Linked DNA regions of Homo sapiens: region 2 is linked to region 1. The links come from fine-mapping of genetic effects on gene expression. A gene starts in region 1. The other region holds a variant in brackets. All regions are shown on one strand. Distances are from middle to middle. Region 1 holds the start of ZNF418 (zinc finger protein 418). Region 2 overlaps C19orf18 (chromosome 19 open reading frame 18).

Region 1 (2,912 bases):
AAGTATGTTTACATGGGTTGACAGAAATGGGAATACCTCCATACATCCTGTGTCATGGACTTAGGATTCTGGGTTTAGGGTTTCTCCAGTGTTCTCAGATCAAAGGACTGAAAAAATGGCAAGTAAGAGTCCCAGGACATCACAAGCTAGAGAACATGTGAATGGGGAATAAGGCCAGTGAGGGAATGGAACACCCTCTAATTCCCTCTGTGGGTTCCTTTTTTTGAGCCAGAGTTTCGCTCTTGTTGCCCAGGCCGGAGTGCAATGGCTCACCGCAACCTCTGCCTCCCGAGTTCAAGCAATTCTCCTGCCTTAGCCTCTGAGTAGCTGGGATTACAGTCATGCGGCATCACCACGCCTGGCTAATTTTGTATTTTTGTTAGAGACGGGGTTTCTCCATGTTGGTCAGGCTGGTCTCGAACTCCCGACCTCAGGTGATCCGCCCGCCTCGGCCTCCCAAAGTGCTGGGATTACAGGTGGGAGCCACCTTGCCCGACCCCCTCAGTGGGTTCTTTACGTGCTTTTGTAGCCAGGAGTGTCTGAGGGGAAAGCAGACGTTACAAAGGGGATCTGATAAGCTCAGGTCTCCTTGAACCTTTTCTTATCGCTGGAGCCAGGTGACCTCAGACTGGTTGACCTGCGTGTCTCAGTGCAAAATGTCATCTCTACCACCTATGTGATCTATCAACAAAGGAGTCAACCTCCCAGAACCCTAAGGTCCTCATCTCCTCTACTATGTTCTTCCTTTGGCCTTTGGGAAACCTTAAAAGCCTGGACTTGGATCGCATCCCTCCTTTCTTCGAAACTCTCCATGGCTTCTAGCGTCTTCACAGCGAATACACAGCCCCCAGCCTGCTCTTCCAGGAGAAGCTTCGCCTCACACGTTGTTCCCTACAGGCGCCTGTGGACCCCAGGTTCCATCCTCCCGGGTCTGTCCTCCAGGCCATAGCCCGCGCCGGTCCCTGTGCCTGTCGCTCTCCCCACCGCATCCCACAGGTGTCAGAAACAAGGACCTCTCCCGCGAACGCCTCAGTGTCCCGACGCCGGGTCCGGGCTGCAGACCTGTGAACAGTCGCCGCTCTCTCGCTGCTTCAGGATTCGGGTTAGGATGAGGTGACCTGAGGGCAGGGAAGGCACAATTACCTGAGCCGGGAGCCTCAGCGCGGCCGCCGCCATCCCGAGTACGCGGGGAAAGCACTGCCGGGAGCGGCGGGCGCCGTTACGGGGCCTAAGATCTGCCTCTGTGCAGCAAGAAGGACTCTTCACCTTCTGGGTTCAGACACCGCGGTTCGGACCCATAGCTCCAGCGCCTCTCACCTCACAAACCGCAGAAACACACCCAACATTAACCAAAATGGTCGCTACCAGAGAACGCTGAGAATCCCGCCACTACGTTACGTGCGCACACAGAAACGCCTTTATTCTGAGCCCTTACTGGTTCTGTTGCGCTGTCATTCAATGTAGAGCTTTCTGGGTAATGTAGTTCCCCAGGTTCCAAGGTAGTAAAGCTGCCGCTTCCCAAAGGCGCTTCTGCAGGGAAGTCCCAGCCCTACCTCAGGGGGTTCATTAAAGCGCGTACCCTTTTAGGGCAGAGGATGGTCTCGCCCCTCCTTAGAGGCCATATTGAGATTCCTGGGGAATCCCTGTTTGTAACTGACCACCTAAGTGTTTGCAAAAATATTAATTCACATTTCTGTAAATTCAAGCTCCCAGGCGCTAAAAATACTGTGAAGGCCCCCAAAGGCTACAAATCCAAATTCGTGTATCACTTTATACAATCGTTTAGACACAGAATGCTTGCACTGGAAGCAGAGGCTGATAAACATTACTCTGTTATAATTCACATGAATGCACTCTTGTTACCGGATAGAATGTCTTGGCTGTGAGTTGTCCAGTTGTTGGCGCATTGAACAAAGAAGTGAACAAAACACACAAAAAAAGCAACGAAAGAACGGACCAATGAAAGCGCAGATTTATTGAGGGGAAAGTACACTCCACAGAAGTGGAATGTAGGTGTGGGAGCAGGCGACCAAGCGGCTCAAGAACCCCGATTACAATGTTTTTTAGGGTTTTATTAGGTTGGTGCAAAAGTAATTGCGGTTTTTGCCATGAATAAGCTAGAATTTTATAATACCCCAAGAGTTCTTTAAAGGCCTCCAATCCTATGAAGGACTGGTGCACAACCAATCAGAGGCTGAAGTGGAGACTTCTGTCTTGTTACCACAGGAGTGAGGACGTGGCCTGTGTGCTGCCTCATCTTGCCTAGAACTAGCTGCACCTGCTGTTCTTTTGCTTATGCCTTCATTCTTGGTTACCCTAATTCCCTATTCTCCTGCCTCACTCTGAGGCATTAGAGTTGGTTTTTCAGTCTGCCAGGGACAAAAGAGAACTAATCCAGATAGGACCATGCCAAGGAAGATAGAGGAGAGGCTAAAGAAAGAGTACAAAGGTCAATCAGTCGTTCCCATGGAAAAACAACTCTCCTGCTTATATAGTCAATTATTGTGTCCAATTCATTCAGCAAAACATTTATTCATGTAATATCCCTTACTTGGTATTCTAACTTATATTTTCAACTCATTTTAGGAACTTGAAGTCAGTCTCAGGTAAAGAACAATGAAAGAGAAATCTCAGCTTGGTATTGGTAATGGTGGTGATAATCTCCACCTGGAGACACTAGGCGTATGTTAAATTATCGAGCTTGTTATCTTTCCTGGGAAGTGATTATCATTTGTTTCTCTTGTGACAGCGGGGAGTGTTCTGCATGAGGAACTAATATGATACCAGAAAAACAGGTGAAATGCCAGTTACAGAAACTTATTACCAACGACTATCTAATAACTGCGATGACAGAAATAGGTCAATTGAAACATGAGTGGATGGTGAAAAAAATTTACACTTCACAGAAGTTT
Region 2 (2,912 bases), 24 kb after region 1:
GCCTCTTTGCATTCCCACAGCCCTTGGTGTCCACTTGCTACCTCTGGCCGTGTTTCTTAGCTCCTTGCCTGTGGGCCTGTTTCCCTCAAGAGAGCTGGAACCTGACGGCGATGAGTGTGTATTTCTTTTTTGTGTGGAGACGGGGACTCACTATGTTGTCCAGGCTGCTCTTGAACTCCTGGACTCAAGCAATCTGCCTGCCTCATGCTCCCAAAGTGTTGGAATTACAGGCATGAGCCATCATGACTGGCCTGGATGAGTGTGTTTTACTTATTTTATTTAATTATTTTATTTATTTATTTTATTTAATTAATTAATTTTTGAGACAGGATCTTGCTCTGTCAACCAGGCTGGAGTGCGGTGGCGCGATCTCGGCTCACTGCAAACTCCGCCTCCCGGATTCAAGCGATTCTCCTGCCTCAGCCTCCTGAGTAGCTGGGATTACAGGCGCATGCCACCATGCCTGACTAATGATGAGTGTGTTTTAATCCGGAGTCATATTTATTTTAACATCCTCAGTTTCCTCATGTGTACAAAGGAAACAAGGTATGGAGCTGACAGGTAATCTCACCAGGAAAGTTTTGCTTCATGAAAGCTATTCCCTGGCTAGTCTGGGAGATGGCCCCCCAAAACTACTTGTGCGGTATTTCTGGTCAGGAGCAAGAGAAGAAAATCCTGACAAGTTCTCTTAACCCTTAACAAAGTTGGATTCTATTCTATTTTCCAATTAAGTTATAATTATTCATCAACTATGAGAGCCAATAAGCAAGAGTTGCTATATCATGTGGCTTTATTTTCTGGGATACAGGTCTGGCATTTCTTTCTTTGATGTCCTCTTCCATAAGGTTCTCTGGGAGCAAGCCACGCCCACAGGCTCAGTCTCCCAGCACCCCCATAGTTTCTCCTCTGCCTCAGCCGGCACCTCTGTCGTCTGCGTTCACAAGTCTTCCATTTTTCCATTATGTGACGCATTCTTTGTTTTGTTTTCTGTTACTGAGTTTTGCTCTTCCTTCAGTTTCTTCTTAATATTTTTGCTTCTTTTTGATATAATAACTAAAATGTAGAAATGATGTTATTGAGATAGTAATAAGTGAGGAATAAAAATGGAGACAAAAGGGGT[G/A]AGGGAAAAAGCCTGGAAAAATAGAGGTACCAACAGTGGAATTTTCAGAGGATTCATAATGAATGTTATTTGTCTGACAAGGATGGTGAAAATTAAATTTTAAAATTATTTTCCCATATTTTGTATTCAAGTTGTATAAATGCCCAGTAAAAGAAGAAGAAGAATGTAGAAAATTTATAATCCAATGTGGTAAAGAGACATTGGGAAAATGTTTTCTACAGGTTATGACAAAGTCCTCTGCCTCAGTGAGCATCAGTGATCTCTCCTGCTGTGGCTGTTCTGCCTCTTTCTGGCTATGTCTGGAGTTTTTAGAGAGTGAGTCCATGTGAGGATGGTTAGTATGTCTGAATCACACACTACACTCTCTATAGTTTTCTCTCTAGAATTTTTTAAACAGGTACCCACGAATCTCAGAACTTCTAGGCTGGGCTCAGTGGCTCACACCTATAATCCCAGCACTTTGGGAGGCCAAGACGGGAAGATCTCTTAAGCCCAGGAGTTTGTGACCAACCTGGGCAACATGGTGAAAACTGTCTCTACTAAAAATACAAAAACTAGCCCGGCGCAGTGGCTCATGCCTGTAATCCCAGGACTTTGGGAGGCTGAACAGGGCGGATCACTTGAAGTCAAGAGTTCGAGACCAGCCTGGCCAACATGGTGAGACCCCCCATCTCTACTAAAAATACAAAAATAAGACAGGCGTGGTGGCATGTGCCTGTAATCCCAGCTACTCGGGAGGCTGAAGCATGAGAATCACTTGAACCCAGGAGGCGGAGGTTACAGTGAACCAAGATCACACCACTGCACTCCAGCCTGGGCAACAGAGCGAGACTCCATCTCAAAAAGAAACCACAAACAAAAATGAGCCCGGCATAGTGACATGCACCGTAGTCCCAGCAACTCAGGAGGCTGAGGTGGGAGGATTAACTGAGCCCAGGAGGTTGGGGCTTCAGTGAGCTGATATTGCACCACTGCACTCCAGCCTGGGTGACGTAGTGAAACTCTGCCTCAAAAAAAAAAAAAAAAAGAAAAAAGAAAAAAAAGGCCAGGAGCGGTGGCTCACACCTGTACTCCTAGCACTTTGGGAGGCCGAGGCGGGTGGATCAATTGAGGTCAGGAGTTCGAGACCAGCCTGGCTAACTGGTGAAACTCCGTCTCTACTAAAAATACAAAAATTAGCCAGGGGTCATGGTGCACGCCTGTAATCCCAGCTACTCGGGAGGCTGAGGCAGGAGAATTGCTTGAACCCAGGAGGCAAAGGTTGCAGTGAGCCAAGATTTCGCCACTGCACTACAGCCTGGGTGACATAGGGAGACTCTGTCTCAAAAAAAAAAGATAAATAAATAAAATAAATTCTACAGGCGGGGTGCATTGGCTTATGCCTGTAATCCCAGCACTTTGGGAGGCTGAGGTGGGTGGATTACAAGGTCAGGAGATCGAGACCATCCTGGCTAACACGGTGAAACCCCGTCTCTACTAAAAATACAAAAAGTTAGCTGGGTGTGGTGGCGGGTGCCTATAGTCCCAGCTACTCGGGAGGCTGAGGCAGGAGAATGGCGTGAACCCGGGAGGCAGAGCTTGCAGCGAGCTGAGATCATGCCACTGCACTCCAGCCTGGGCAACAGAGCAAGACTCCGCCTCAAAAAAAAAAAAAAAAAAAAGAACTTCTACAAAATCAGTTTTAAATAATCAATTTCATCCTCTTCTCACAAGGACAGCAGAACATGTCTGTGGTGGGCATGGCATGCTGGGAAATTTTACCCTGGGGTAGTGACCTCTATTTTGTGGGTCT

Evidence for each region. PIP is the estimated chance that this variant, and not a neighbour inherited with it, causes the effect.
Region 2: its variant is the best candidate, but not a certain one, in a credible set for the expression of ZNF418 in whole blood (INTERVAL, PIP 0.50).

Annotation. Positions count from the first base shown.
Region 1 is chr19:57,934,018-57,936,929 of GRCh38, forward strand. ZNF418 (zinc finger protein 418) reads right to left here and starts at 1,385. Exons shown (of 6, transcript NM_133460.3): 1 at 1,144-1,385. RefSeq lists enhancers at 788-1,670, 1,263-1,352.
Region 2 is chr19:57,957,665-57,960,576 of GRCh38, forward strand. It overlaps C19orf18 (chromosome 19 open reading frame 18), which reads right to left. Exons shown (of 6, transcript NM_152474.5): 6 at 773-1,053. The coding sequence ends at 938. Among named protein-coding and RNA genes, the nearest start is that of ZNF256, 11 kb to the left of the region's middle. The variant G/A (reference allele first, on the strand shown) is at 1,121.